7 linked regions of the Homo sapiens genome follow. The protein of the gene in region 3 interacts with the protein of the main gene of each other region in a biochemical or structural test. Each region holds a gene or a part of one and is shown on either strand. Other genes may lie near its edges.

Region 1 (4,021 bases), on a different chromosome or scaffold from region 3:
TGCTCTCCCCTCTTCCTCACTCTCCCGTTTTCTTGAGAAACAGCCATGTTTTCGTTCATTGCTAAGTGACAGATGCCTGTCCAGATTTAGTTGCCTTCCCGCTTCCATAGAGATGCAAATGTGATCACTGATTAAGGCAACCTGGATCTCGAACCTCTCTACAACGCGAAGGACTGAGCTAAAAATAAAGGTATGGGTTCAATTCCACTTTCAGATCTGCGTTCAAGGCTAGTTGATGTGTACAGCTCCAAGCCAGGTTCCCAGTTGTAAGTTATTATATACCATGTACCACGGTTTTAGGGCAATTCAGATGAAATCATCTCTTATCCCCCTACCTCCTTCTCTGTCACCAATACCCTGCCAGAAAAACTACACTATCCAGTAAGCTTTGTTATTGCAATACTTTCAAAGCAACTACAAAATCACTGTCCTTATGAAGACCACAGTACACTTCTCAATGGTGAAGTGGCATCTTCTATAGACCCCTTTCCACCCACCTACCCACCTTCCTGTCCTGCTCGTTTCTGAGAGTGGTCATCTCTCAACAGAATTAAAAAGATGGGGTGAAAAGAGAAGGATTACAGATGCTTCCGGCAGTAAATGGCGTGCTCCAAGTTGGATGTATTGACCTGGTCTCTAAGCTGGTGACAGAGAGTGGGGAAGGGGCAATGGGTCTTCCTGTCATCTTTCCAGTCATTGAGGCCTCTCTGTTTAATAAGGGAAAGCCAAAAGAAGCCACCAATAGGTTTTTTTCTCTTTTTAATCCAGCTTTATTGAGGTATTGTTAACTAATACAAATTGTATATATTTAAGTTGTACAAACTGATGTTGATATCACCTTAAATATACACACATACATTGTGAAATGATTACCACAATCAAACTAATTAACTATCTAGCACCTCACACAGTTCCCTTTTTTTCCTGTAGTGAGAATACTTAAATCTATTCTCTTAGCAAATTTCAAGTATACATTATTGTTAACTATAATCACCACGCCGTACCACTGAAAACCAAGAAAACATTGGTTTTCTTCAACCAGTTCCACCTGCCTTAGGGAAATTTCACGTGAATTTTGCCAACAGACGTTCTGTCAGACTTAGTTTTCAGTATTATTAATGTTTGCCTCTTTCTGTGAATTTATTGTTATTTCACTGATTAGTTAGGAGAGCCTACATGAGGGGAAGGGAACCTAGTGCCATCATAAGCTAGAATTCCTTCCTTTAAGTCACTTATTTTTCAGGAGTGCCATAGTATAACTTTAAGAATTCTTGTGGTTCCTAAGAGGTATTATATATTTACCAAAAAAAAAAAAAACTGTATGTACAAATCTATTGCTTTATATATTGAAGCATTTTTCCATTTTTAGATGGGTGCGTGTTCTTAAATGCTGTTTCAGGGATGTATAAATCTTGTTCATTGAAATATTATTCGTGCACTCTGTTTTTCAACATCCTTACTGGGAAATCTCACAAACGTGCACAATCTGGCATGAAATATTTGTTTGGGAGAAGACTGTCACAGACATAGAAATAACTAATGCCTTAGCTAGGCAACGCCCTAGAGGGAAGCAAGAAAAGACTGTAAAATGTAGTTTACGACCAACTCTAAATGGACAGCTAATATTTCTTACTTGAGAATCCTTTGTACCCATATTAATAAAATGCCTCGAGATGACTGCTGTTTGAAATTTGGGGTCTGTCATGTTAAAACTTAGAATGAACAGGCAGACTATACATAATCAAAGTCAAAGCAATTAGCGAAGTCTCATTTAGACTCATTACTTCAGCCTTCACTCCTAAGCCAAATAATCTTTAATCACACTCTTCAGCACAGAACTTCTCTTTTTTGGTGCAGACTCACTTTCTACTAGACCTCATCACCTGAATGTTTTGCAGGTATCTCAAAAATTGCAGGTATCTCAAACTCAAGGTGGCCAAACAAAAATCTTCATCTTACATAAGCCTGACCTGCCTAGAAAAAAAAAAAAAAAAAAAAAGTTGGTTCTTTTGTTGAATGGCACCTGTATTCATCCAGGCACCCAAGCCAAAAACAGGAAGACATCTGCTATAAATCACGTTTATATGCCCCCAAAATTCACATATTGAAACTGTAATCCTCAATGTGATGGTATTTGGAGATGGGGGACTTGGGGAGGTAATTAGGCCATGAGGGGGAGCCTTCATGATGGGATTCGTGACCTTATAAGAAGAGATGAGAGAAAGCTTGCTTCCTTTCCTCCCCATGACCCCTTCCCCCTACCCACGTGAAGATACAGCAAGAAGATGTCCACCTGCAAACCAGGAAGAAGGCCCTCACCAGGAACTGACTCAGCCAACACCTTGATCTTGGACTTCCTAGCCTGCGGAACTGTGAGAAACAAATTTCTTTTGTTTAAACTATCCAGTCTATATTTGTTATAGTATCCTGAGCTAAGACAACATCCTAAACTCCTTCCTTACTTTAACTCCTCATATCTGATGACCAAACCTGTTGCTTTCATTTCCTAAATATCTCTCAGATCTATCCACACTTCACCATGACAATGACTGCTAACCTGATTCATGGACTTATCTCTCACCTCAGTTACTGCAGTGCCTCTCTTTACTCATTTTTATGCCACCTCTTCCTTCATAAATAACAATGTGTAATTTAAAATTCAATACTGCTCATATTTCCAAACAGATTTTTTAAAAAAGAACTTACTGATAATCTATATATTCTAACAAAAAAATTGTTCTCATCTGTGCATCGACTGCCTCTTCTCTATAGGCTACACATTTTATGTAGCTCTAATCATAGTCTATATTTACTCTTCTTTTGTCATTTAACACTAGATACCTGGAATATATTTTTGAAATAGTGTTGTTTATGAAAATATTTCATTTCATGATTGTCTGATGCTCCAACGTGCTCATAACCAAAACTGATTTAACGACTACATGGTCATGTAAGTTGTTTCACAGACAACACGGCAAGGGACAACTCTGTGCATAAAGTGTTTTGTTGCTATTGATTTATTTTGTCACATAAACTTTAAGGGGTGGGATTACTGATTCAAACTTCTGCTAACCACTGTCATACTAGGTAACATGGCGTAATGGCTAAGAGAACAGTTTCTATGCAAGACAATTTAGGTTCCAATCCTAGCTCCACCATTTACAGTATGACCTTAAATAAGTTACTTAATCCCTGTATGACTCAATTTCCTGTGAAATATGAGTGATAACTGAATCCTCCTTCATGAGGTATCATGAAGATTAAATGACAATATAAGACAAGCTCTTAGAACTGTGCTTGACATGTAGCAAGTGCTCCACAAATGCTATTTTATATTGCAGTTTCCAATAAAAGTTATATAAAAGTTTCCAAAAGGATCATGATTACCATACATTCCTCAGGGTACTGCATATCAGTTTTACTGCAGTTACGTTACCAAAGGCATTCCACTTTTTTGATGATTTTTATTTACTTAGTAGTTACCCAATGTCATCTTGGCACAATTTTTTTTAAATGCCAGAGAGTCCAAGAGTTGTTCCTGAAGTAAGTTTAAGTTGCTTAAATGAAGCTAGGCTTGGGGAACTTTAATTCCTTATTTTTTTGTCTTATATACTCTAGCCAAATAAGCATATAGTTCACTTTTTTAATAAAACAAGTTATACAAGTTGCCTTGTCTTTCTAATAATGATCAGCAACATAAAAAAAGGTACAAAAGAATAGTGAGTGGTAAACCTACAACTGGCAAAGTACCTCAGTAAACCATTATCTTTACTCTTCTGTTATAGTGACCAGAGAGTGTTGTCAAAGGACATGATACAGAAGAGTCTAATATTGGTCATTATGTAATCCTTGTCAAAAAGGTCCTGGTAGGAAGACATACAAGTACTAAAAGAGAAAACTTACGCAATGCATGTGATGGCTTTAAATATTTGTTCCATCTTTAATAAGAAATACTACAGAAGACAGACTTTGACTTAGACTGAAGGAAAAAAGGATAATTAAATTCTTTGTTAAAATAAAC
Region 2 (4,520 bases), on a different chromosome or scaffold from region 3:
TTAAGGACGGTCCCTGCACTAGCTTAGTAGCTGCCAAGCAGTGTTAACACATCTCTGGAAAGGTGGGCTTAGGCTGTGAGGCTGCAGCGAGGATCTGGGAAATGCAGACCTCACCAGAGATTCTGGTCTTTGGAGGGATTTAGGTGAAACTGTGCTCTTATGGTATTATTTATTGCTGAGACATAGTATAGGCAACAGAAAGATGTTGCAGATTCTAGAAAATTCTGGCTAGGTCAGTGTCCGTTGGCAAAAGAAGAGGGAATAGTGGGGGATATGGTCTGGGAGTAGATGGCTAGAGAAGGGGCTGCAGAAAGAAGGCTGCTACCCACAACTGCAGCATTATGTGTATGGGAGATAAATTCACTTGTCATATTTCAAATCAGGTTTACAGGTATTTCTCCCCCGTCCGCTCCCCCCACCCAGCTGTGGCTTAACAGGTAGTCTTCTCAAATTTTAATTACAATTGGTAATATATTGGCGTCTAAAGTCTAGGTCTGACTAAGATGATGGTTTGTGTGTATGTGTACGTGACTATAACAGAAAGAGCTTCTAAAGTCTTCCGATGTGGTGGGAAAGGTGCTGCGCTAGGCATCAGTCGTTCTCTTCCCAAGAGAATCTCCCATCTCTAATGTCAGACTGCTTCAGGAGGTGAAAAGGGTGTGGGTGTTGCAGTGAATTTCCCCAGCCCAAGACACACACACACACACACACAGACACACACACACACGCGCGCGCGCGCGCGCGTTAACAAGTTTGGGGGGGGCGGAAAAACAAACTCCTGCTGATGGCTGGGAAATCCAGCTAAAAGCACAAGGCAGGCTCCTATAGCATAGGCGAGCCAGACAGACGCCCAGATAGCCTCAGCTCCCGAGCGCGAAGCCCAGCTGCTGCCGGGGCACTCTCGACTTGCTCTCGGGGAGGCTGCAGGCTGCGGAAAGCCGGGGCGCCAGCCTCCCTCATCACACTCCTTTCCCGAATCACCTCAAACTCTGTACCCAACGGCAAAGCTCAGAAATGCAAAAAACCGAAGAGGGTCAAATTGTACTTCAATCCAAAGGAGGCTGAACACCCGCCCCCCCCGCACCCCCCCCCCCCACCACACACACACCATGCCGCTTAATTTCTTTTCCCGGCTTAGATAAAAAGCATTACTTGCCCATCGAGGCTTGGAGATGGGGGGCAAGAGGTTGGTCCGAGGCTAAGCTCACCTGCTGCTGAGGTGAGAGAGCAGACACAGGATGGAAGCTATTCTGACCAGCAGCTAAGTGGTTGGGGGATTGCAAAGACCCTCAACTTCGCCTCTGGCTTTTTTTTTTCATTCGTGTCACTAAAGGGTTAAACACGGCAAGGCTCCAGCCCGCCCCCCAACCTCCACGCCGCTCCACTCCCCCTCCCCTTTTTGTCTCTCCCCTCCCCTCCCGCGCGTCGCTAGGAGGTCATCAAGCGCTCTGCCCAGTCCGCGTTCGCAAGCCCCTCTGCTTCCCGCCCATCGGACCCGTGGCTGCTTACGAAGAGGTGTGCGCACACTGAGGGGCGTGTTCCAGCATAGGGAGACGCTGAGCGCCCACGGGTTAGACCTCAGAGCCAAGCCAGCCATGGAGTGGGATGGGGGAAAGTTTGGCACCCTGCGAGGGGCTGCCGGACTGGAGTGGGCGGGGCGCCCGAGGGTACTTTAGCCTTCCAGGCTTAGGGACTCAGGCTGCCCAGACCTGAAGCGGTGTGCGGCCATGGACCGCGGAGCTGCCGCAGCCCAGGGCACTGCCCCGCCTCAGGATGGAGAGCAGCCCGCTGAGTCTCCAGAGCCTCCGCCGCCTTGGCCGCCGCCGCCACCACCACCGGCTCCGCCGCCGGCTCCGCCGCTGCTCTCCGAGGCTTCGCCAGAACCCATACCAGAGCCCTGTCCAGAGCTTGCTCCAGGTCCCTGTCCAGAGGCGACCTCAGAATCAGCCACAGAACTGTACACAGAACCGACCCCAGAACCAGCCACAGAGCCGGCCTCAGAACCGGCCCCAGAACCTGCCACAGAGCCGGCCCCAGAACCTGCCACAGAGCCGGCCCCAGAACCGGCCCCAGAACCTGCCACAGAGTCTGCCCCAGAGCCGACTCCAGAACCTGCCCTAGAGTCGGTCCCAGAGCCGGCCCCAGAGCTGACTCCAGAAGTTGCCCCAGAGCTGGCCCCAGAGCCGACCCCAGAACCTGTGACAGAGCTGGCCCCAGAGTTCTGCCCTGAGGCGGCTCCAGAGTTCCGTCCAAGTCCAGCACCATGTCTATTGCAATGTCCGGTGGACACTCGAGAGAGAGGTCTAAAGACCTCGCCATCGCCATCGCCATCGCCATCGCCCAGAACGCCAATGTCGTGGTCCAGAATAAAGGTAAGCAAAAGACCCCCTGAAGCGGGGAAAAGAAGCAAGGCGAAGTCAGATGGCTATGGAGCCCGCGGGACTCCGGGTACCCCTTGCATCCCGCTTGTCTGGCACTGGCTGGCCAAGATGCTGAGAAAGATGCAGGGATGGGGAACCCGGGGGAATGGGAAGGGGTTGGGAGGCGGGAAGCAACATGTGGGAATCGAGAATGGGCTGTTTGGGGCTAGAAACGGGGGTGACAGCAGGGGGTGGGAATCGGAGCAGTTTTCCCCTTGAAGAGAAGCGACAGTGCGGTGAGCGCCAATATCTTGAAAGAGAGGAGGAAGATACCCTCGGGGAGCGCAAGAGACCTGGAGAAGTGTTTGGGGCTGGCCCCGAATACATAGCGGACGGATTGAGTGGGGGCGGTGGGACACACCTCTTAGCCGCGGTCACTGCCGCAGAGGCCCAAGCTGCGGAGCCTTCGCCTGCTTGGCCCCCTCCCTGCCACTGGGGAGGGGGCGCCTCAGCTGGGCGCAACTGGCGGCCCTCCAGGGAGGTGCCCGGCGCCTCTGCCGGCTGCTTCGAGCTGGTACTCCTGGTGAGGACGAGGGGATGGGCGGCGCCCACGCGCACTGCAGGGGAAGGGCAGGGTTCTCCGGGAGGAGGGGGAGAGCATGCGTGTGTCGAAGCCACCATTCCATCTGTCTGCAGGATTTCCCAGCAGGTAGGTGCAAACGCAGTGATACAATGTTGCGCAGCGTCACAAACGGGGCAACTGGCATCCCGCACCAGGGCCAATTGGAATGGTACAGGAGTCCTGGTTTAGAGACACGAAAATAGGAGTTGGGATTGCAGAACGTGTGAAGGGGAACCTTCATCTCTACCAGTCTACCGCGACGCCTTCTAAATCGTTACACTTAGCCGGGAAAAGATGAGTGGAGAATCTTCTGGCACTCGCCCAAGGGGAGTAGGGAGGAAAAAGGTTTTCGTGTTTACCTTGGACCCTGAAACCCCGTCTGCTCTTAAGCGGGAGTATGCCTGTCTTTCCTGCTTTCTCTGCACTCTCCCTACTCTTCCTTTACCCTAAACTTCGTTCCACAAAACTGAAAACCAGGATAATGCACACACACACCTCAATTTAGCTTCCCCTGCAGGAAGACATACACACGCGCGCGCATTCACACACACACACACACACACACAAACGAATAACACAACACACGAACAATACCGGTCCATCCTGCTGCCTAGCAGACCATAAGGACACGGCTCAGGAACCCTTCTGCTGTGGACCGCACACTTATAGAATGTAGAATGCGGGAGGGGAGGGGGCAGATTGGCATCACGAAATGGAAGCATTGGTTGCTTCCTGAGTTCTTAGTAGGGAGGCTTGAGTTTGCAAAATATCTGCAATGACGAATAACTGAAAAAGAAGGCTAAAATGAAAAGTTTCACAGAGAAAAGAAAGTGCAGAGGTTTAAAAATAAATAAAACATGACGGTGGGAGACTCTGATAAGTTTTTAAAAATTCAACACCCTAGCTCTCACCAGGGGATGTATCCCTCCCCTTCCTGAAAATACCCTTTCCTGCAGTGATCTTAAGAAGGGCAAAGTTGGGGTGGCTAGATTTGGGAGCTCACCCTCACCGGGTGATTGATCTTGTCTTTTTGGAAGAGTTTGCATTAAGCTGGTGGGAAAGAGACAAGCAGGAATCACCTGACCTGTGGCCATCTTAAGCGAAATTTTGGGAACATGGCTGTGAAACTGACACGTGGGGACGTAATACCCAGAGAATGCATCTCCCCTTTGGCCTCTGAAAGGCTGACTGGCGACCAGGACCCTTCCCCCAGTGAAAAGCATCCCCTGCTCCCATGCGAAAGCATCTCCTACCTGTTTGACAGGAAAATGTCATTGCCAGACAGATGAGGAAGATTAAGGTAAGGGGAATCAGATTAGTTTCCTCTACGTAGTGCCCACTCAGACGTGCTGGCTAGCTGACCCACAGACATCTGGCAACACTGGCAGGAGACCAGGATCCCAGGGGTTTGACTTTGCCCTTAGTAGAGCCAGACATTTGTTGAATCACTTATCTGTAGAATGGGGTTAAGAACCACGACCATCCGTTAAGAAGGCCATGCAGATTAACTAATCAGTGGCTCTGGAGAATTTTGAAGG
Region 3 (4,755 bases):
TGCCCAAGGAAGGTGGTGACTCCAGCAGGCAGAGCTGGCCTTCCCGCTTTCACTGCCTCCTCTCTCCAAGTCCTATTTTATCCTCCGCCTTCTTTTCTACATAATCTGGGAAAAGGAATATGGAAGCCCCTTAAACTGAAAAAGTCATGGGAAAGAGGTAAGCATAAGCTGGAGGAAGTAAGAAGCAGGAAGAATGGGAGTTAGATAGTAGAAAGAATTTTCTAGCTATTTTCTAATAATGAAGGACAAGGCCAGGCATGGTGGCTCACGCCTATAATCCCAGCACTTTGGGAGGCTGAGGCAGGCGAATATCACTTGAGGTCAGGAGTTTGAGACCAGCCTGGCCATCCTGGTGAAACCTCATCTCTACCAAAGTACAAAAGTTAGGTGGGCGGTGTGGCATGGGCCTGTAGTCCCAGCTACCTGGGGAGGCTGAGGTGGGAGGATCACTTGAACCTGGGGGCAGAGGTTTCAGTGAGCCTAGATTGTGCCACTGTACTCCAGCATGGGTGACAGAGTGAGACCCTGCCGAAAAAAAAAAAAGGAAAAGAAAGACAGAAGGACTGTCCCTCCCTGGACTGTCAGGGGATGGGCTGGAGGGGGTCCTTCTGGGGGACAAGGAAAGAAGCTGGCTCAGGACCAGGGCATCTCTTTAGGCCCAGCTCAGAGTGAAGCCAGGAAGGGTGGCTGTGGGGTGCTGGTGATTGGGAGCCTCTGCTGTCACTGCTGTTCACTGCAGAGCAGGACTGTGGGCTGGCCCCATGGCCTGAGCCCCAGGACTGGCTGGGTGGGGGTCCGAAGGGCTGGGGCACCTGCCAGCCTCTCTTCTATGCTCGACTCCCCCTCCTCTCTGGGATCCTGGGCTGAGACTCTGGCTGGGAGGGGCTTACCCTACACTGAGGGGCACCCCGTCTCCCCACCCCCTGCACTAAATCTTCCCTTGTGTCTCAATGTCTAGGGGTCTCTAAAGGGAAGGGGGCCTCTAAGCCTTTTTCTGTCTTCCCCCCTTTCTGATCCTGGGTCTCCTCATCTTTGTTTCTGACTTTCTCTGCCTCTCTCTGCGCTGTCTCTATCTTGTCTCTGCCTTTCTCATGCTTTCTGGGTCTCTGGATCTCTGTTTCTGACCATCTCTGGCTGGCTGTTTCTCTTTGCTTCCCTCTCCCTCCCTCCCTATCCCCGTGCTAGTTCTGGGTTCGGTGCCCTTGTCCTCTTTCCTGGGCCTGGATGGCCCTCTATCTGGGCCGGTCCCTTAGAGGCCGGGCAAGCGTCTCCTGGAGACCGCCTCTCTTCGCCAGGCTGGGCTCTGACGTCCAGCTCTCAGGCAGCGCTCGCCTCTGCCTCAGCCCGGTTGCAGGTCTGTGGCCCTTGAGCGAGGCCGCCGGGGCACCCAGAAGGGAGCGCGGGGTGGGTGGTGGGAAGGGGGAGGGGCGAGGGGGCGGACCCCGGGGGGGGCCCCCCCACACCGCGCTCGGCCCCGCCCCCGGCCCCGCCCCTCCCGGGTCCCTGCCGGCGCCCCCAGCCGTGCCCCGGCCGCAGAGCCGCCGCTGCCACCCGATGAATGGAGTCGCCTTCTGCCTGGTCGGGATCCCGCCCCGCCCGGAGCCCCGGCCCCCACAGGTGAGGGTGCTGGGCCAGGGAAGTGGGCGGGGCCGGTAGCTGCTGGGGAGCGGGCTGCCAAGCCAGGGTCGCTGCGACCCCGCTCGCCCTGCACAGCCTGGGGCGCACGGTGGGCGCGGGCACCGCGGGCACCGCTGCGGGGAGATTCAGCTGGTGGCAGGCCCGGGAGGGGGCCCGAGCAAGAGCTGTCCGGGGTAGAGGGGTGGGAAGGACGGAAGCAGGCAAGGGGTCGGGACGGGCACGGGGCTGTCAGGACAGGGGGCACAGACCCAGGTGGCGGTGCCAGGCCCCCAGCGGCTGGGCAGCGGGGGCGGGAGGCCCGCGGCTTTTGTTCGGGTTTTTCAGGCGGGGCGCCTGCCGCCGTTTCCTCTGCCCGAGTTTTCGTTTTCCGTTGGCGAGGCCCCGGCACAGCTGGAGGGAGAGGGGGTGGGGGAGGGGGTTCCCGGAGCGGGACGTCCTCCACTAAGGCGTCCGGACACCCCCTCCCCGCGCCACACTCGCCCCCTGCCGGGTCGGACTGCGGGACGGGTTGCCAGGCGCGGTTCCGCCGCCCTCCTGGATCCTGGGGAAGTTCTAGACACAGGCCCAGGACCCCGGGCTCTGCCGGCGAGGCTGCCCTCCCCTCTGCCCTCTCCGACCGGCTGTGGGTGGGTCAGAGCGCGGGGTGCCAGGGGCATTACTCAGCGCTGGGCTGCTCTGCCTGGGTTCTTTCATCTGCCAGCTGCTGAGGCTGGGGAGGGGCCAGCAGGGGCCTCCCAGCCCCATCCCCCCATCAGGGCCATTCCCTTACCTCTGAGCCTGGCTGCCCGCCCTGCAGGAGCCCCCCAGCAGGCCTCCCTGCTCCTAAGTTGAAGGGTTGAACACTGTCAGGCCAACAGTTTCCCTGAGCTCGGAAAAGAAATTCCCCGGGGTCCAGGTTGAGGTCAAGGCCAGGGCTGAGGCCTGTTCCTCTTTAGACAGGGCTGAAAGACTTGGGGACCCTCCTCCCCAGCTTTCCCGGCAGTGTTGAAGGTGGGATCTGGTGCTTGCAACTCTTTTGGAGACTGGTGTGTTCCTTGGTTGCTGGATGTGTGTTCAGTTCTCCCTCAATCTGCATCTCTCCCCGACTCCCTTCAGCCAAAGTGTGTTTCCTAATTATGAACTTGAAATTCAGGATGGACGGGGGGTGGGGGTGGAGGTCATGAATCCAAGCATGAGTCCCTTGGATTCAATCCCCCACCAGCAACACATACTTCATCTCTATCCCCTGCACCCCTCTCTGTCTCCACCCCAACCCTGCGGCCTAGCTGGGGGTGAGTGGCTTTTGATCCCATGTGGTTCTCCCCTCTGCCAGGGCAACAGACCCCATTCCCCAAAGTGACAGCTCTCACTGCCATGTGCTCCTTGGCATGCGATTTGAATCTCGATTATATAACCAGTCATTTCGCCTCCAAAGGCAGCCCAAAGGCCCCCGGCCCCAGCGGCTTCTTCCACTTGCCCACAGTGTGGTTGGGTCCACCCCAAGGTGGCTGGGAATTCCAAGATCCTGCATCTGAGGACCTGACCTCTTCTTGGGAACCATGGGAGCAGTAAATCCTCTACATTCAGTGCTGGATTCAAAGGCCTCAATAATAATAAACAGGAAGAATGGGAGTGGGCAGGGTAGGTGTTGGTGTCCCATTTCACAGAGAGGGTCTGAGCCTATGTAGTGACAGTGCCCAGGCAAGAACCCAGGACACTTGAGGGTAGTCAGGGCACAAGATGAAGCTTGGGGAGGAAAGCTGTTAGGAAGGTGTCTGACTACGGGAATAGGTCAGGCTTGTGTGGATCCCAGCCCAAGCAGAGAAGGACTGGGTGGGGGGAAGAGGCCCTGTGCTTGTGCCCCTCTCCTCGGGCTGACCCTGGCTCACGGGGAAGAAGTGCAGCATTCTTGGCATGGATGGGAGTGGGGGTGAGGGAGGGTGCTGGTTCTGAGCAGAGCAGTGCAGGAGTGGGTAGTGGATTGCTTCATCCTACATTGCAGGGATACTCAGAAGGACTTCTTGATGTGTAAGGTTAAAAGAGAGACTACAAAGCAGCAGCATGGAAGAAGTTACAGTGTGAGGGACTGCAGTTAGATACTCAGGAGAACTTCTAGGGAGGGGCTTGTGACCCACAGCATCCCAGGCTAGCCATGCAGGGAAGTTTCCTCCAGTATAGTGGGTCAAGTGGATTCTTGTGAAGTTGGATTCCAATGTAGAAACCTGGAGATGGTCATTGGAGATATCAAATATTCCAGCAAATATATTCAAATGAGCACTGGTGCCTGGAAACAAAAAATGTGTTTTTAAGAAAGGGGAGTTGCTTTCACAGTATAGCTCATAGTTAATACACAGACAGCAAAAACTCCTGGCCAGTATTTATAAAAACTACCTCATTTGATCCTCACAATACCACTAAGAGGTAGATACCATTATTATCCCCATTTTACAGTTGAGGACACTGAGGCATAGCCAATATTGCAGCCCAAATCACACCCCCAGTGCACTGTGGAGCCAGGGTAGGAATGTGGCAGTCTGGCTCTAGAGTCTGGCTCTCACCCTCACTATCTGGCTTCTCAGGACCTGCTATGTCCCGCTGTCACTCCCACCCCAAATCCGTGTCCATTTTCTACACAGCCCAAGATCAAGGTCAGCTTCTGGCTGGATTGCAGCTTAGTTGCTTGTCTTTTGTTCTATTTCTTTACTCCTCCAATCTTTCCCACCCTGCCCCATGCTAGCCCATAGCACTGGGCCAGGGCTCGGTTCACTGGTGTTTTCCTTCCAAAGGGGCATGAAGCCCTGCTCTGTTGGCTGCAGGGGTTCAAAGGTAAGATATTGGCTTGGTCAGGGATTTGGACAAAGCCTGGTTTTAATGATCCTGCTCTCACCATCTCGGGAGAGAGACATGAATAGGGCCTGTGGGAGCTGGTGCTGCCTTTCCCCTAGCACCCTCCACCCGCTTCAAACAACCCGCCTTCAGATCCAGGCCCCCCTGTTTCTTGTGAAATTGTGCCAGTTTGTCAGCAGGGCAGTACCAATCTGTGCCAGGTGGGTGTCTCCTCCCCCATTGCCTCAGTGGGACATCAGGCTGAGATGGCCTTGGGGCTGGACTTTGGGGAGATTTTAAAGCCCTTTTGGG
Region 4 (3,798 bases), on a different chromosome or scaffold from region 3:
TGCTGAAATATACATAATTGAAATGACATGATGTTTGAGATTGCCTTTAAAATATTAAAGTAAGAGTTCAGGCTGGGCACATTTGCTCATGCCTATAATCCCAGCACTTTGGGAGGCTGAGGCGGGTGGATATCTTGAGGCCAGGAGTTCGAGACCAGCCTGGCTACAACATAGCTAAACCCCAATCTCTACTAAAAATACAAAAATTAGCCTGGCATGGTGGTGCATGCTTGTGGTCCCAGATACTCGGGGAGTCTGAGTCACAAGAATTGCTTGAACCCAGGAGGCAGAGGTTGCAGTGAGCCAAGATTGTGCCACTGCACTCCAGCTTGGGTGACAGAGGGAGACTCTGTCTCAAAAAAAAATAGAGTTCAGAATGGGGAGAGAGATGAAACAGCAATGGCAAAACATTAATAATTGTCAAAGCTATGATGGTACATGAGGGTTAATTATATCATTCTGTCTGCTTTTGTGAATTTTTGAAAATGTTCTATTATAATAATCTTAAACCACGTACAGAAAATTGCAAACATTTGAATTTTTTTGGCTTGTCTTCACATCATTAAAGGTAATGTAAAATTGGTTATCACCTGGATTTTTTAAGTGGTAAATCATATATTTGTTTGGTTTTTGAGGCACCAAATAATCCAAATTTAATTCAAAATTTTCTGCTCTTCTTGTTCTTGGGGTTTCAAGCAAAATAGAGGGGATCATTTGTTATTTAAAAATGTAAACATATACAAAGATAGCAAGAACTGTCTTTGTATACAGCAAAGATAGCAATGAACTCCCATTTATCAATTACCCAATTTCAACAATTATCAATACACAGCTCATCTTAGGACATCTGTGTCCCTAACTACTTACCCAACTAGCTTATTTTGAAGTAAGTCTCAGACTACTGTATTTCTTCTATAACATGTTTGGTGTGCTCTTCTAATCAAAACCATAATGACTTGTTTTAATCTGGTGATTCTTGCATCTTAAAAAATAACTTCTTAATATTAGCAAATACCCAATTACTGCTTAAATTCTTTAAATTATCTGATGTTTCCTTACACATGTAGGTTTGAATTAAGAACCAAACAAGGTCCACAATTGCATTAGGTGATATATCTCTAAAATCTTTTTTAATCCATAGGCTTTACTTCCCTCTTTCTCTCCCATTTGTTGCGAAAATTTCAAATCTACCAAAAAATTTAAATTACAATGAATAACTGTATAACTTTTACTGGGATTTATCAACTGTGTCCAAAAACCAGAAATCTCTCTCCTCTGTTTCTCTGAGCATACAAATATTTTGCTGAATCATTTGAAAATAAGTAGTGAACATGCTGACACCTCACTCCCAAAGCCCTCAACTTGTGTTCTTCTACTAGAGCAAATCTATATATAGACTTGTCCTATATAACCACAATACCATTCTCACACTTCAGAAATTCAACATTGATATGCTACTCTATCTAATATAATCCCTCATTCAAATTTCTTTCATTATAACAATAGTGTCTTCTATAGTGTTTTATTTTTTCTTTTGATCCAAGGTCAAAGACCACATATTGCATTTAGTTACCTTTCTTTATCTCCAAAAATTCCTCATTCTTATTTTTTTGTTCTTTTGTGACATTTATATTTTTTTCAAGAGGCAAAGCCAGTTGTTTTGTAAAATATCCCAACTATTGGATGTGTTTGTTTGCTTGTGAGTATGTCCAGGTAAAATATTGTTGGTGGCAATACTACACACGTGATTTGCATGATGCTTAGTAAATCATATCAGGAAGCACATCATTTCAGTTTATACCTCATTGGAATTTTAATTTTGGTCCCTTGGTGAAGGTGGTGTCTACCAGTTTTCTCCATTGAAAAATCCTTCTGCAGTTAATAAGTCACCTATAATTTGACACTTCGAGATTATGTCACCATTCTGTTTCCCAAAAATCTTTCACCCAAAATTTTAGCAGCCATCGATGAGTCTGGATTGAATCAATTATTTACATGAGTATTTGCAAAGTTTAGGTAAACCTTTACATAGAAAATATTTTCAAATATTTTCATTTGTTTTCAAAGAACAAATGGATAATCTCTGAAATTTAGAAGTGTCATAAATATTCTTAGATGACTTTAAAAATTTAGTGAGATTATTTTGTTCAATATAAGCATACAAAGCAATTTTATAACAGAAGAAAACATATACAAAAAAGGTTAAAACTCAAATGCCGGAAACAACCAGACAGTTGATGGAAACGAGTGATGTAGGCAGAGAGAAAGCTGTATGGACTTGTGGTGGACTCCAAGTGTAGGCAGCGGTTGGGGGAGTGAGGCAGCTGCTGCTTAACTCCAGCCAACTATGACCATGGACTGCCAGACAACATGGTTCTTAAGAGAACTCAGAAGTGTGCAAGTTTATATGAAATCTCCTAGGTTTCAGCTATTGGCTACTAACTAAAAAACAAAATCCCAAAGTCTACACAGACTAAATAACCAATGTTAATGAACCACCAATTTAGAACATATAAAATATACACTGAGCTATGAACAACTGCTTAAGATACTTTCGTTAATATTTGCACATGAGAGACACATTTTCTCCCTAAGGAGGGATTAAATTCCTAACATTTTCTGAGAACCTACTAGGGTTTCTGGCATGAATAAGGAGGACATGTTTCCTACCGTGGTGAGCTTACAGTCTAGCAGAGAAGGCAATTCAACAAGCTATTACAGGAGTATTTAAAGTTTGATGAGATGTAAAACAATGAGAATTAATGCAGTTTAGTTTATCAAAATGAACTGAAGGAAAACGTTCAAACTTGGATTTTAAAAGTGAGTGTGTATTAAGAATGTGAATAAGAGAAAATCATTGCTTGGGATAAAGGAAACTACACAAGGCATTCAGACAAGAGGAGAGAACATTTTAGTCACTGAAAGAAATCCAAGAAAATTTGAGTCTGAAATGTAAGACAACAATCTTGCCCAAAGTGAGGCCACAAAAGTAGAAAGACCCAATGTTCAGTTAACTACTCTTCTTTTGGAACAGATGTCTTGGGAAGTCACCTACTTAATTCAGTGATGCAACCTCTGTATGATGTACAGATTTGAGAAGGTTAATGAATGAAGCCAAGGAATCATGAATTGGCTGTTGCTTTAAGTTAGGGTAGAAGGAGTGGCAGTGGGAATGGAAAGAAGAGAAAGTGTTTAAGATATACCTAATAGATAGACTCAGTATGATTCCGGGACAGATTAAATATAGTGATAGCCAGAGAGAGGAGAAAGAAGGATCAATGATAACTCACAAGTCTGCTTTAATGACTGGGCTTCCACTGATAAAGGGACAGGTCTATAGGGGAAGAAGTTGAGCTCATGTTGAGTTTGAAGTGCCTGAGTGACATGCTTCTGGAGATAAATAAATGGCAGTTACTGCATGATTCTGGAGCTTATGAGAAAAGACTGGATTAGAGAGATAGGTTTGGGAGATTTCAGCATGTAATTGATGGCCTTTCATCTCCAAAACAGTAATTAGATTAAAGTAAGTGGTTTCAGATAATCGTTCATAGACAAAAAGATGTGCATATGTTTTTAACAGCAATTATTTGTTTTTCTCACAGCAGGAATCCCAGCTCCAGTGTATTTTGGAGTTTTGATTGATACTTCATGCCTCAAATGGGGATTTAAAAGATGTGGAAGTAGAGGATCATGCAGATTATATGATTCAAATGTCTTCAGGTACCAAATCAAAAGCATTCCCGCATCTCATTGCTACAGCATCCCAGATTTACACAATGCCACTGACACTAACAAGTT
Region 5 (4,021 bases), on a different chromosome or scaffold from region 3:
GGCCCCAGGGCATGGTGCCCGCACAGTACCTGCAAAGGCGGGCGATGACATGGGCCTCAAAACACAGTCTCTGCAGGACAAGGACAGCAGGGCTCCCCCCAGCTCCGGTAGCCCCCTCCTCACCTGGGGATGTTCAGGAAAACAACACACTGGGGTTTCAGGTCCTGGATCTTGGGAGTCAAGTCCATTCCATCACACTGGAGGCGGGCGGGGAGGGTGTTGAGGTGCATGTGCCAGGTGGCCTCCGCCTCCCTCCCTTCCGGCCCACCCACCCACGGCAGCCTGGCCCCGCTCACCACCACTCGGATGTGCTTGGCCAGGTCCTTGGAGCTGCCCATCAGGAAGTCAGAGAAAGCTGTCTGTGGGAGACAGAGGGCGTCACCATCTGCTGACAGAGATCTTTCCTCACCAGCACCCGGCAGGGCTCCTGGGGCCTGGTGGACACAGGTGGGCACGGGCACGGGTGGTAGAAGAGGTGGGCACAGGCGGGGGTGCAGACCCCACTCACCCCGGCGTAGAACATCTTATTCCGAAAGCGGCTGTTGAATTTCTCTGGGTTGGCCTCTGGGTGGAGACAAGCAGTGGGGGCCAGTGAGTCACCCCAGCCTGCCCAGGTGGGGTTGGGGGAGGGCTGGGATGGATGCCTTCACTGGCGGGAGCAGGGTCTGACCCTCCCGGGGACACTCCTGTGCCCACCCTGCCCTGGCCTCAGTGGGAGGCTGCCAACCTCGAGACTCGTGGAACTCCAGGGTGACGTGGGCGTCAAAGCCCAGGCTGAAGTAGTTGTTGAAGACATCCAGGGGCAACTGGAAAAAGGTCAAGGGACCAAAATGAGGGCTGGGCCTCACAAATGTCCCCGCTCCAGGGGCCTCGTGTGGCCGAGCCAGCTCAGCCCATCTGTTCACAGGCTTTTCCTGGTCAGCAGCGTCCGCTAGGGCTCAGCCCAGCTCACCCGCTGTCAGGCACAGCCCTGCTCTGCCTGGTGGCTCCTGGGGGATTTCCCTGCGTGCCTGCAGCATCTCTTCCCTGTCAGCTCCCCTAACACTTCTTCCTGACATGCCATGTGGAGCACAACAGCGAGGCTTGGTTTTGCTCACTGCTTAGAGAAGTGCCTGGCAGGTAGCAGGCGCTCAGTGCATGTCTATGGAATAAAGCAGCATCTTCTGACCAGGCGTGGTGGCTCATGCCTGTAATCCCAGTGCTTTGGGAGGCCGAGGCAGATGGATCACCTGAGGTCAGGAGTTCAAAACCAGGCTGACCAACATGGTGAGACCCCATCTCTACTAAAAATACAAAAATTAGCCGGGTGTGGTGGCGGGTGCCTGTAGTCCCAGCTACTCAGGAGGCTGACGGAGGAGAATAGCTTGAGCCCGGGAGGCAGAGGTTGCAGTGAGCCAAGACTGTGCCACTGTACTCCAGCCTGGGTGACAGTGAGACTCTGTCACAAAAAACAAAAAACAAAAACAAAAAAAAAAACAAGAAAAAAAAAAGAAAACAGAAAAACAAAAATTAGCCAGGTGTGGTGGCACCTGCCTATAATCCCAGCTACTCAGGAGGCTGAGGCAGGAGAATCGCTTGAACCTGGGAGGCGGAGGTTGCAGTGAGCTGGGATTGCGCCACTGCACTCCAGCCTGGGTAACAGAGCGAGACTCAGTCTCAAAAAAAAAAAAAAAAAAACAAAAAAAAAACACAGAAAAAACAGCATCTTGTGAGGCAAGTACTATTATTCCCATCGTACAAGGAAGAAGTGGAAGTTGGAGAAATGAAGAGACACGCCCGAGGTCCCAGAACCAGCAAGTGGAAAAGTGGGATCCAGTCCCCAGTCACCTGCCCTGCCCCCCACCAACCCTGGCCAACTTACCCGGTCGGTGGCGCCTTCATCTCGGTCCTCAGGCCCTGCCTCGGGGTTGGGCTCAGCGTGGAGGTCCCAGCGGTCCAGCTGTACCACGTTCCCCTCCTCCACGTGGGAGAGGATCTTGGACACAGGCTCATCTGTGTAGCCCTGGGGGAGCAGGCAGGGACTGAGCCCTCTGTGGCTGGAGAGGCCCCAGCTGCACCCCCCTCCTATGGGTGCTTACCCCACCCCAGTTGAGGGTTCGGGCCAAGTCGTTGCCAGTACCCAGGGGCAGGATGGCAACAGGGGGTGGCGGCTTCAGGCGTAGCTGGTCCAGGGTGGAGAGGATCCAGCCCACCTGGGGGAGGAAGAACAGAGGCAAATCAGGCCCACAGGGACCCCGGCTTCAGGCCCAGCCCTGGTGCTCGGCTGGCCCATGCGGGGAGCTCACCGTGCCGTCGCCCCCGCACGCCAGGATCCGCAGGTTGTGCACTTTGCGGTACATCTCCAGCCTGGGCTCATGGGAAGATGGCAGTGGGGTCAGGGGATGTGTGCTGTACCCCAGGAGTGAGGCAAGTTCCCCCCCATGTCCCCCACAAAACCTTGGCAAGTACTTACGCCTCCTTGGGCCCTCCCTGGCTCAGGTCGAAGACTTGTCGGGGATTGAGATACCAGAGGAAAGACTGGATGATCTTTGCACCCTGGATGGGATGGGGAGCCAAGAGACAGTCAGGCAGTGGTGGGACGAAGTGGGAGCAGCAGAGGGAGAGGGGTGTGACTGTGGGAACCAGGGCCAATAAGGGGTGAGGGGTGGAGAAAGGACAGGATTTTCTCAGGATCCCTGGGAAAGAGGGATTGGGGTAGAAGCCAGAAACGGGCTCTGGGAACAGCTGCTGGCAGACGGGCTGGACCCCAACCCCCGCCCGAGCCCTTAGCTGAGAGGCAAGGCCGCGTTCACCTGGTTGCCCCCACTCTTGGGGTTCACAAACACCAGCAGGGGCTTCATGAGCGGGGAGGGGGTGGGCCTGATGATGAAGGGTCTCCAGCGGCCCTCCTGGGAGACAAGGTGAGAGGCTGTAAGCTCCTTCCCGTCCAGGACACCCTACCATCATCCTTAGCAGGCCCCCTGGGTGACTTTGTTCCCTCTTTGTACCCTCACGTACCATCTCTGGGCCAGATCTTACCAGGCCACAGAGCAGAAACTGGCATCTAATCCTGCCTTCCTCAGAGGCCCCAGAGCCCACACAGACCCCCACCAGCTGGCAGCATTAGCTGGGGGTGGAAGTTCTGTACCCTGAGCAACAGACCCCTCTCTCCTGCTCCCCTGCAGCCTCTGCCCAGCCTGGGGCTGACCTCAGGCCCTTTCTTGCTGGACTTCCTCTTGAAGGATGCCCTCTTCTTCTTCTTGCTTGCTTTCAGAGTATTCTGCAAGGGAAGCAGGGGTGTTGGTGACGAGGTGGGCAGGCTGGGGTAGCTGGCAGACCCCAAGTGCGTACGGGGCATCAAGGGTGCAGGCAGTACTCACCTGGGGCCTCCGGGCGCGGAGGATCCAGGTGGGCGGGATGACCACGGCTGCGTGGACCCCCAGCGAGCACGGCTCCTCGATCTGCTGCAGCATGAAGCAGGACACCTTGCTGTGGTACTGAGGAGAGCGAGGGGCCGGGCTCAGCGGGACCGTGTTCAGACTCGGGGACCCAAACCCAGCAGTGCAGGGCCTGGCCCTGGGGGCGGGGGCACCACTCACTGCCTGCTTGCACCACGAGCAGCTGATGGCCACAATCTCCTTGCTGTGGAAGGTGAACTTCTGCTGGAATCCCTGAGGGTAGACAGGATGGATGGGAACCAGGGCAGGCGTGGAGCAGCAGACCCAGCCCCTCTCCTGGTGCCAGCCTCTCTCCACCCAGAGACAGGGCCTCGCTATGTTGCCCAGGCTGGTCTCAAACTCCTGGGCTTAAGCAATCTGCCTCAGCCCCCCCAAGTAACTGGGAACAACAGGCATGTGCCACCATGCCCAGCTTTGAACACATTTTTTGTTTTTGTTTGGAGATGGAGTCTCGCTCTTGTTGCCCAGGCTGGAGTGCAGTGGCGTGATCTTGGCTCACTGCAACCTCCACCTTCCAGGTTCAAGCGATTCTCTTGTCTCAGCCTCCTGAGTGGCCGGGATTACAGGCGCCCACCACTACGCCC
Region 6 (4,021 bases), on a different chromosome or scaffold from region 3:
CACTTGACTCATCTGCTATTGGGATAATGGACCAGGGACTGAAAGAATTTGGTCTGATATCTAGCTTTTCCATTACTACCTACATAAATTTGGGAACTCATTTAACCTCCAATCCTCACTTTTCTGATATTTAAAATAGAAATAATTGTATTCTTCTTTATATCACAGCATTGATAGGGTAAGCATCAATGGGAATGAGAGACTACTCCTTGAAAATCAAATGACATAACATATGAAAGGGTATTTCAAACTATAAAATCAAGTATTACCTTTCTGGGAGACAGTACAGCACAGAGGTTAGGCTCTATGGTCTTAAAGTCAGACAGATCTGAATTCAAACCCAGTTCTGTCACTGACTAACTCTGTGACGTTGGGAAAATTATTCCTCATTTCTGGGCTTTTCTCATCATCTATAAAACAGGGAGTTGTTCAAAGGACTAAGTGGAAGATTTTATGTAAAGCAAAAACCGCAGTGCCCCGTATATAGACAGCATTCAATAATTAGCAGTTATAATGTGTTGTTATCATTACTAAAAGTAATGGCAAAAACCACAATTACTTTTTCACCAACCTAATATTATTATCATGTTTCACATGAATTAATAGTGTCAGACTCAGAACAGAAGCACAGGTGTCCTGTTCCCAGCTCTTTCTGCCATAAACCACCTGAACAGCTGGGAGACCTGGAAGCATAAGCAGAACTGTCTCTCACTTGATTCATCCTAGATCCATCTCTTTCCTCTCACCTCTCCCCTCCAATCCAACAGCAAGTCCTCATTTTTACTCTGAAATATAACTTAAATCTGGCCACATCTCACTATCCCCTTTGTTCTCCTGGTGTACAACACCATCATCTCCAGCCCCAATTCGACCAGAGCCTCTGAACTTTTCTCCCTGCTTCCTCTCCTGCCCCATGAGTCCATTCTCTTCAAAACAGTTGTGGTGTTCTTCTCAAAACATAAGTTCTATCATTCCCCTGATTGAAATTCCACAGTAGAGTTTTAGAGATAAATTATTCACAATGGTGAATAATGTTCCACATGATTTGGTCTCCACGTGTTGTTCCACCTACATTTGGTTACAATCTGCCCCTTGACCACATCCCCAGAAATGTGTGTGTTTCTAAGATGCTAGATTTCTGTCTACCCCAAGTCCTTTGTACTTGCTTTATCCTTTATTCAGAATTCCCTTTCCTCTGTTTTCAAATGACTGGCTTCTCATTATTGAGCTTTCTCAAAGGTCTTCTCTTTGGAGGGGCTTCCTTGAGCATTCCATCACTTTCCACTTAATTACCCTGGTTTTTTAAATAGCACTTGTCAGAATCTGAAATTACTTTATTTATATTTGTATTGCCTGCCTCTCACTGTAAGAATATACATTCCTGACATCAAGGTATGTTTCTCCTTTCCGAAAAGTACATATACAAAATAGGTGATCAATAAATACATTTTGATTGAAGAAACAAATGAATGAAGTCTACGGCTATTTCTATATGGTACAATAAAAATGTATTATTCAAACTTTTGACAGTGTCCTACATTGATGGCATTGAGCAAGGAAACACAGTGAATCACTCCATAAATGACAGTAGACATAGCCTACCCTACTAAGACATGTTATACATTGGAGATGAGCTAGAAAAAAAAAAGCAGTAGGAAACTTTTCAAATTATGTTTTAATTGTAGCAGCGTACACCTCAGCTGTCTCATACCCTATGTTTGTTTATTCAAAAAATACTGTGTGGGTGTCTACAGTGTGCCTAATACTGCTCTCGAAGTTTTAGACACATCAGTTAAAAAAAATAAGACAAAAATTTCTGCCATTATAGCTTATAGCATCTCTGTGGTTGAGTAGTGGAGAGTAAGTTGGGAAGATAGAAGGCTCTAATCAGAGAAGGGTGCACAAAATTGTGATTATGGAGTGGGTACAGTTATTGATCCAACACATGGTTTTGCAGGCCAGTCTCTGTTACAATTACTCAACTATGTCATTGTGGTATGAATGCAGCCATAGACAACATATAATAAATGAGCGTGGCTGTGTTCCAATAAAACTTTATTAAAATAGGTGGCAAACTGAATATTACCTGACCATAGCTGGCCAACCACTGGTCTGAGGTACAAGGCATAGGCCATGACCTTGGGTGTGAGTGGAGTGGAAGCTGAGGTAGATTGGAGATCAGACATTGGAGGTCAAGGAACTGGACAACCAAGATTGAAAGGATGGAAGGTGGGAAGGATGATCTACATGTATAGTAAAATTGCCAAGTATTAAGGCAGAAGTAGTACCAGAGAGTGTGACAATGAGAGAGGAACTGACAACTCTGAGAAAAAGAGGAAAATGTCCTATAGATTGGCAGATGACAGCATGAAAGGGAAGTAGATGATATAGTCTGATAACATGAGCTTCAAAGCTGAAGCTTTTTTAGGGTTAAGGGAGATATAATGGTCTAAAAATGGCAACAGGATAAAGTTCCATTTTCTGGGACTGTGGTACTTCTTCTCCACATGTTCAAAATAACTTTTCACCAAACACAATACACACATTTTAACTGTTTAAGAACAACGAGAGTAAAAAATATTTCCAGCAATAAGTCCCCAGTACCAGGTGCCTTAGGAAGGTGGTTATGGCCCTATATTTTGAAGATTCCTCATATGCTGTGATGTGGCATCTTTACAAGCACTAACCAGCTACTACCTGGAGGCACATTTTTAGCGCTCATTGGCAAGAAGACCAGCTTTCACGTACACACTGAATATTTTTTATTGTGTCTTCATAGAAAAACGGGAACTTTACAATAGTGACAGACTTATTGATATTATCTACATTGTAATGGGCTAAAAGAAATATCTCGGAGCCTAAAAAAAATCAAATTGATGATCACTAAAGTTTCAAAAGATCAGAACATGCAAGTAGATGCCTAAAAATGAAGATTCGAGGACTTGAAAAGCTAAGTCCTATAAAAGGGAACTGGAGGTTTTCAAAAACGACTAAAATGACACCAAAGAGAGATTAACCAGCAGGCAGAGAGCTGGCAAAGTGTGTTCATGAATTATATACCGTACCAGAAGTTCTAGCAGGAGAAAAGCATAGGATTAATAATTAACTAGCAGAGTAATAATGGGCTTGTATGTTCTGCTTTTTCTTAGTGAAAGAAATAGGCCTACTTACTCTTTCTGCTCATTGCTTGTCTCCTTGTACTTATGGAAAGGAAAGTTTATAAGCCAAATCCTTTTTATAACTGTGAATCATTTATTCCCAAAGCCTATTCAGGCTTCCTCTCATATTCCCATTTGGACCTTTCTGAAAATACTCCAAGGTTCCTGCTGGTGATTGGTACTACACAAAGAGCTGTGCTACCGTGCCACCAATATTTGAAGCCCTTCTCCACAGTATTTTACCTATCACCATTATTATCTTCATCTCCAATCAGCGTTTGTGGGAAAAGTGCACATTTAGCACTGCCCTTTGTACTAAATAATGTGCTGTTTCTGCTCCAGAGTTTAAAGTCCAGGAAAGATAAACTGATGCCTTTTCCCACCTCTCAGTTCCAGCACTGAGCACTTTCCTGAAGTGCAAAATGGGATTCCTTTAAATCTTTATGGGATAAATAAATCAAGACATGTGCAGGACACACCGAAAGTAAAACAGAAATTTTAAATTAAGGAAGGAGCATTAATACATTTACATCATGTGTTAGTAAGATCATGGAAAAGTTCTGGTAAATGCAGAGTTTTGCTGCAGCAAAGTATTAAAAACAAACAAACAAGCAAACAAAAAACCAGGGGTAAATATTCCCGAGAGGAGCAGGAAGAGATAATAAGATCTCTTACTTCTCATAGAGAAGGAAACTAAATGTTTAGTGTTTACAGTACAGTCATGCAACACGTAACAACATTTTGATCAATGATGGATCACGTATATGACGGCAGTTTCATAAGATTATAGTATCATATTTTACTATACTATTTCTGTGTTTAGATATGTTCAGCTTCACAAATACTTAGCACTGTGCTCTAAT
Region 7 (4,021 bases), on a different chromosome or scaffold from region 3:
TCGGAGGTGGAGACGGTTGCTACAGAAGAATGAGGAATTTGAGCCAGGGGTGGGGTTGGGGGATTCGGAGTAGGAAAAGAGAGGAAAGAGCTTCACTGAGTGTCAGCGAGAGCAGGAGGGGAAGAGGAGGACCGAGCCGCCCCCCGGCCGCCACCCCGCAGGCCTGGAATGATCTCAGCAACCTCGTAAATCATGGATCAGAAACTGACAGCTCCCAAGCTGGATGTAGCCAAGAGTCACGTGCAGCCCACACTGCGCTTCCAAACATCCTGAATTAGGTGTTGTCAAAAATTGGAAGAGAGCCGGGGCAGTGGCTCACATCTGTAATTCCAGTGCTTTGGGAGGCTGAGGCGGGAGGATCGCTTCAGGCCAGGAGTTCAACACTGGGCAGCGTAGCAAGCCTTCATCTCTACAAGAGATTTTAAAAATTAACACACAGGCTGGGAGCGGTGGCCAGCTAGGGGACCGCAGTGCAGTGGATCTGGAGGCTCAGCCCCGGCAGCTGCTCCCAAGTCCGAGCAGATCCAAGAGGGTTCGAATCCGATTCAGGCACTGACCCCACACAGCCTCGGTTTCTTCAACTGTAAAACGAGGCTGCTGTTCAATTTTAATGAGAACACGCGTCAAAGGTGTTGGCAGCGGCTTCGACTCAGGTCGTCACTTGTGAGACAGCAGCTGGTACTGTGAGGTGGCCTTGGGCAGGCCGTGTGACCGCCACCCTGGAAGTAAGCTACAGCGGAGTGGAGGAACTCAGAGGCGAGAACAAACACTCTCATCTCTGCTATGAGCATGGACAATTCAAAGAAGCCCCACACGCGTAACAAGCAGCAAGTTCTTCACCTATCTCCCTGGCCCAGGTAACGCGGGGACGCTGCTCCAATGGGAGAGGGGTCAGAGGCCACGGTCAAGCCAAAAAGACATTTACAAACCAGCATGACCTCAAATACCGAGACTGGGCCAGGCGCGGTGGCTCACGCCTGTAATCCCAGCAATCTGGGAGGCCAAGATGCATGGATTCCTTGAGGTCAGATGTTTGAGACCAGCCTGGCCAACATGGTGAAACCCCGTCTCTACTAAAAATACAAACATTAGCCAGGCATGCCAGCCACTCAGGAGGCTAAGGGAGGAGAATCGCTTGAACCTGTGAGGTGGAGGTTGCAGTGAGCCGAGATTGTGCCACTGCACTCCAGTCTGGGTGACAGAGCGAGACTCTGTCTCAAAAAAATAAATAAATAAAAATAAGTAAATAAATAAGATGAAATGAAAGGAGCCCTTGCAGCCCTACCTGCATAGCAGCCAGAGCCGCTGAGCCCACGAGCTCAATGCATCCTCTCCCACCCGAGTTTTCGGGCACTTTAAAGAAAACCTAATTTTGAAAGAATTATAGAAGCACAGGAAGTTGCAAAAATAGTAACGAGAGTCCCGTGCGCCCTTTCCCCGCCTCCCCCAAGATGACTGACATCTTACATGACGGAAGGACAGTACTGACACCCAGAGCTGATGCTGGGACATCTCCACCCACCAGACCACAGAACCTGCCCAGCCACGCCTGCCCTCAGGTTCAAAGGCCCCGATCTCCCTTTCCCCGCTACAGTAAAGCTGCAGGTGGGCCCGGCTTCACCTGCGCCTGTCAGCAGGAGCAGGAGCTGCTGATACAGCAAGCATTGGGTTCATGTCCACTGCCCAGCCCATCAGGGACCACTGGAGGCTCCCCCAGAAGCCTGAGGGTCCCTGGCACACACGAGGACTGGCACTGTCTCAAGGCCCTGCTGTGGCTGTGTGAACCACACGCTTGCCTTTTTCCACCCAGTGCTTCGGGCGGAGGCGGACCTGAGCTTTCCAAGGCTGCTCCGGTTTGGAAGAGGCTGCCTGCAGTACGGGGACAGAAATAGCAAGTCCGCGGCTGCACACTTCAGGAGGGAGGGAGGGCAGCACTCTAGAGGCCAGAAGACAGAGCTGCAGAGCTAAATCCCCGCAGGAGTTGAGCCGCTGCTCCCGAGGAAGGCAGGGCCCTCAAGCACTGCTGCCACCTGCGCAGACCCACGGGACTAGGTGCAGTCACGTTCCCCCAGTTTGGGGAACTACAGGATGGTGGGCTTCCAGGAAGAGGCAGCGTTCTAGGTCTGAAAGAACACCGGTGAGGAGCTGAACACCCTGTCAACACTAAGTCCCCTACTTCTGTGTTTAAGAGCCACTGTCCCCAAGTGGTCACATCCTCCCTGTATCCCCTGGGCACTATTCTCAAACACAGAGCACAGAGGCTGCATCATGGCCCAGGAGCCCGGGATGACTAAGCACGGGGGCCGTCAGCACCAGGGCTTGCAGACTTTCAAAGGGTGGGTGACAGTCAGCTTTGTGTGTCTCCTCGGTGAGACCACGGTGCCCAGTTGTCAAACGCCAGTCTAGAGGTTGCTGGGAAGGTATGTTTTTAAGATGTGATTAACCTTTAAATTGGCAGACTCTGAGCAAAGCAGATTACTCCACCCCAGGGTGGGTGAGTCTCAGCCAATCAGCTGAAGGCCTTCAGGGAAAAGCCTGCCCAGGCGCGGTGGCTCATGCCTGTAATCCTAGCACTTTGGGAGGCCGAGGCAAGAGGATCACTTGAGGTCAGGAGTTCGAGACCAGCCTGGCCAACACGGTGAACCCCATCTCTACTAAAAAAACAAAAATTAACTGGGTGTGGTGGCATGCACCTGTAATCCCAGCTACTCGGGAGGCTGAGGCAGGAGAATCCCTTGAACCCAGGAGGTAGAGGTTGCAGTGAGCCAAGATCGCACCACTGCACTCCAGCCAATTCCTTAGAATAAATCTCTCTCTACACATACACTCAAGTATCATTAAGGACAGGGATACACTGAGAAATCCCTCTCTGGGCGATGTCGTCACTGTGCAAACACTGGAAAGCCCATTCCACACCCAGGCTCCCATGCTCTGTACAGCGCAGTGCTGAGCTGCTGTCTGTTTATTTAAATATAGAGAACCGAGGCAGGCGGATCACCTGGGGTCAAGAGTTCCAGACCAGCCTGGCCAACATGGCGAAACCCTGCCTCTACTAAAAACACAAAAAAATGAGCTGGGCCTGGTGGTGTGTGCCTGTAATCCCAGCTACTCGGGAGGCTGAGGCAAGAGAATCCTTGAACCCAGGAGGCGGAGGTTGAAGTGAGCCAAGATCATGCCACTGCACTCCAGCCTGGGCAACAGAGCAAGACCCCGTCTCAAAAAGTAAAAATAAAAATAAAAATAAACATACAGAAGGCACAGCAAAAACATGGCCTGATCATCTTACGTCGCCACCGCTGCGTAGGCGGTCTGTCACTGGCTGAGCCATCGCCCTGAGGTGGCTGTACACATAGGCGCAAACACACACACGCTTCGTCTTCATCGCTTGTTTCTCTGGAGAACCATAACACACTCGCATTTCTGAAACCCCCACGTGCTAGCTTTCTGGGAATATGGATTTCAAGTGCCCTCCAGGGCAGAAAGTAGTCACTGGAGGGCACAGCTGTGTGTGGCTGGTGTGGCTGGCACGGCTCCCATCTGCCCAGAAGCTGGGCCCTTTCTCAGGACCTAGAGTCCCTGGTGGGGATGAGGGACAGAGCCTGGAGCTAATCAGAATGCAGAGACCCGGCTGCCTTCCCAACCTGCCTCCTGTTTCCAGGGGGACCTTCCCCACCACTCCCCGACCTCCCCGACCCCGCAGTGCTCACCTTCCTGGCCATGATGAGGCCCGAGGGTCTGTGCTGGACTTTGGTGACCACCCCGCCGTTGCCCGCGCCCAGCTCTGAGATCCTTTCGAAGTCATCGTCTTTGAGTTCGCCGACCTTGGCTTTCTGGGTGAGAAAGGCTTCCAGCCGCTTCTTCTGCTGCTCGTCAAGTTCCAGCTCCTCCAGCTTCTTCTGCAGGTCCACCAGGTTTGCCCTGCAGAGACCCCCCAGGGTAGGGGTTAGCTACCTAGGGAGACTCCATCTGGCCGTTTGCTATGTGGCCGTGGTGCATCGGCCCCCAGGAGGACACAGACTGG

The links.
Region 1: the proteins of ARHGAP23 (region 3) and DOCK4 interact in a test that uses a peptide from one of them, tested with the Homo sapiens proteins (one large-scale study listed by IntAct).
Region 2: the proteins of ARHGAP23 (region 3) and DGKK interact in a test that uses a peptide from one of them, tested with the Homo sapiens proteins (one large-scale study listed by IntAct).
Region 4: the proteins of ARHGAP23 (region 3) and SLCO1C1 interact in a test that uses a peptide from one of them, tested with the Homo sapiens proteins (one large-scale study listed by IntAct).
Region 5: the proteins of ARHGAP23 (region 3) and DGKZ interact in a test that uses a peptide from one of them, tested with the Homo sapiens proteins (one large-scale study listed by IntAct).
Region 6: the proteins of ARHGAP23 (region 3) and SLC15A5 interact in a test that uses a peptide from one of them, tested with the Homo sapiens proteins (one large-scale study listed by IntAct).
Region 7: the proteins of ARHGAP23 (region 3) and MAP2K2 interact in a test that uses a peptide from one of them, tested with the Homo sapiens proteins (one large-scale study listed by IntAct).

Annotation. Positions count from the first base shown.
Region 1 is NC_000007.14:112,195,993-112,200,013, forward strand, and holds part of DOCK4 (dedicator of cytokinesis protein 4), read right to left. Parts: intron 1-4,021. UniProt on the Homo sapiens protein: Functions as a guanine nucleotide exchange factor (GEF) that promotes the exchange of GDP to GTP, converting inactive GDP-bound small GTPases into their active GTP-bound form. Involved in regulation of adherens junction between cells.
Region 2 is NC_000023.11:50,467,886-50,472,405, reverse strand, and holds the start of DGKK (diacylglycerol kinase kappa), read left to right. Parts: upstream 1-1,580; 5' UTR 1,581-1,727; coding exon 1,728-2,372; intron 2,373-4,520. UniProt on the Homo sapiens protein: Diacylglycerol kinase that converts diacylglycerol/DAG into phosphatidic acid/phosphatidate/PA and regulates the respective levels of these two bioactive lipids.
Region 3 is NC_000017.11:38,426,932-38,431,686, forward strand, and holds the start of ARHGAP23 (rho GTPase-activating protein 23), read left to right. Parts: upstream 1-1,532; 5' UTR 1,533-1,554; coding exon 1,555-1,617; intron 1,618-4,755.
Region 4 is NC_000012.12:20,747,073-20,750,870, forward strand, and holds part of SLCO1C1 (solute carrier organic anion transporter family member 1C1), read left to right. Parts: intron 1-3,602; coding exon 3,603-3,720; coding exon of another isoform or gene 3,721-3,798. UniProt on the Homo sapiens protein: Mediates the Na(+)-independent high affinity transport of organic anions such as the thyroid hormones L-thyroxine (T4), L-thyroxine sulfate (T4S), and 3,3',5'-triiodo-L-thyronine (reverse T3, rT3) at the plasma membrane.
Region 5 is NC_000011.10:46,370,942-46,374,962, reverse strand, and holds part of DGKZ (diacylglycerol kinase zeta), read right to left. Parts: intron 3,651-4,021; coding exon 3,579-3,650; intron 3,477-3,578; coding exon 3,360-3,476; intron 3,260-3,359; coding exon 3,188-3,259; intron 2,889-3,187; coding exon 2,793-2,888; intron 2,536-2,792; coding exon 2,453-2,535; intron 2,347-2,452; coding exon 2,286-2,346; intron 2,193-2,285; coding exon 2,079-2,192; intron 2,003-2,078; coding exon 1,862-2,002; intron 807-1,861; coding exon 728-806; intron 565-727; coding exon 509-564; intron 360-508; coding exon 297-359; intron 198-296; coding exon 124-197; intron 30-123; coding exon 1-29. UniProt on the Homo sapiens protein: Diacylglycerol kinase that converts diacylglycerol/DAG into phosphatidic acid/phosphatidate/PA and regulates the respective levels of these two bioactive lipids.
Region 6 is NC_000012.12:16,218,604-16,222,624, reverse strand, and holds part of SLC15A5 (solute carrier family 15 member 5), read left to right. Parts: intron 1-4,021. UniProt on the Homo sapiens protein: Proton oligopeptide cotransporter.
Region 7 is NC_000019.10:4,113,712-4,117,732, forward strand, and holds part of MAP2K2 (dual specificity mitogen-activated protein kinase kinase 2), read right to left. Parts: intron 3,919-4,021; coding exon 3,708-3,918; intron 1-3,707. UniProt on the Homo sapiens protein: Catalyzes the concomitant phosphorylation of a threonine and a tyrosine residue in a Thr-Glu-Tyr sequence located in MAP kinases. Activates the ERK1 and ERK2 MAP kinases.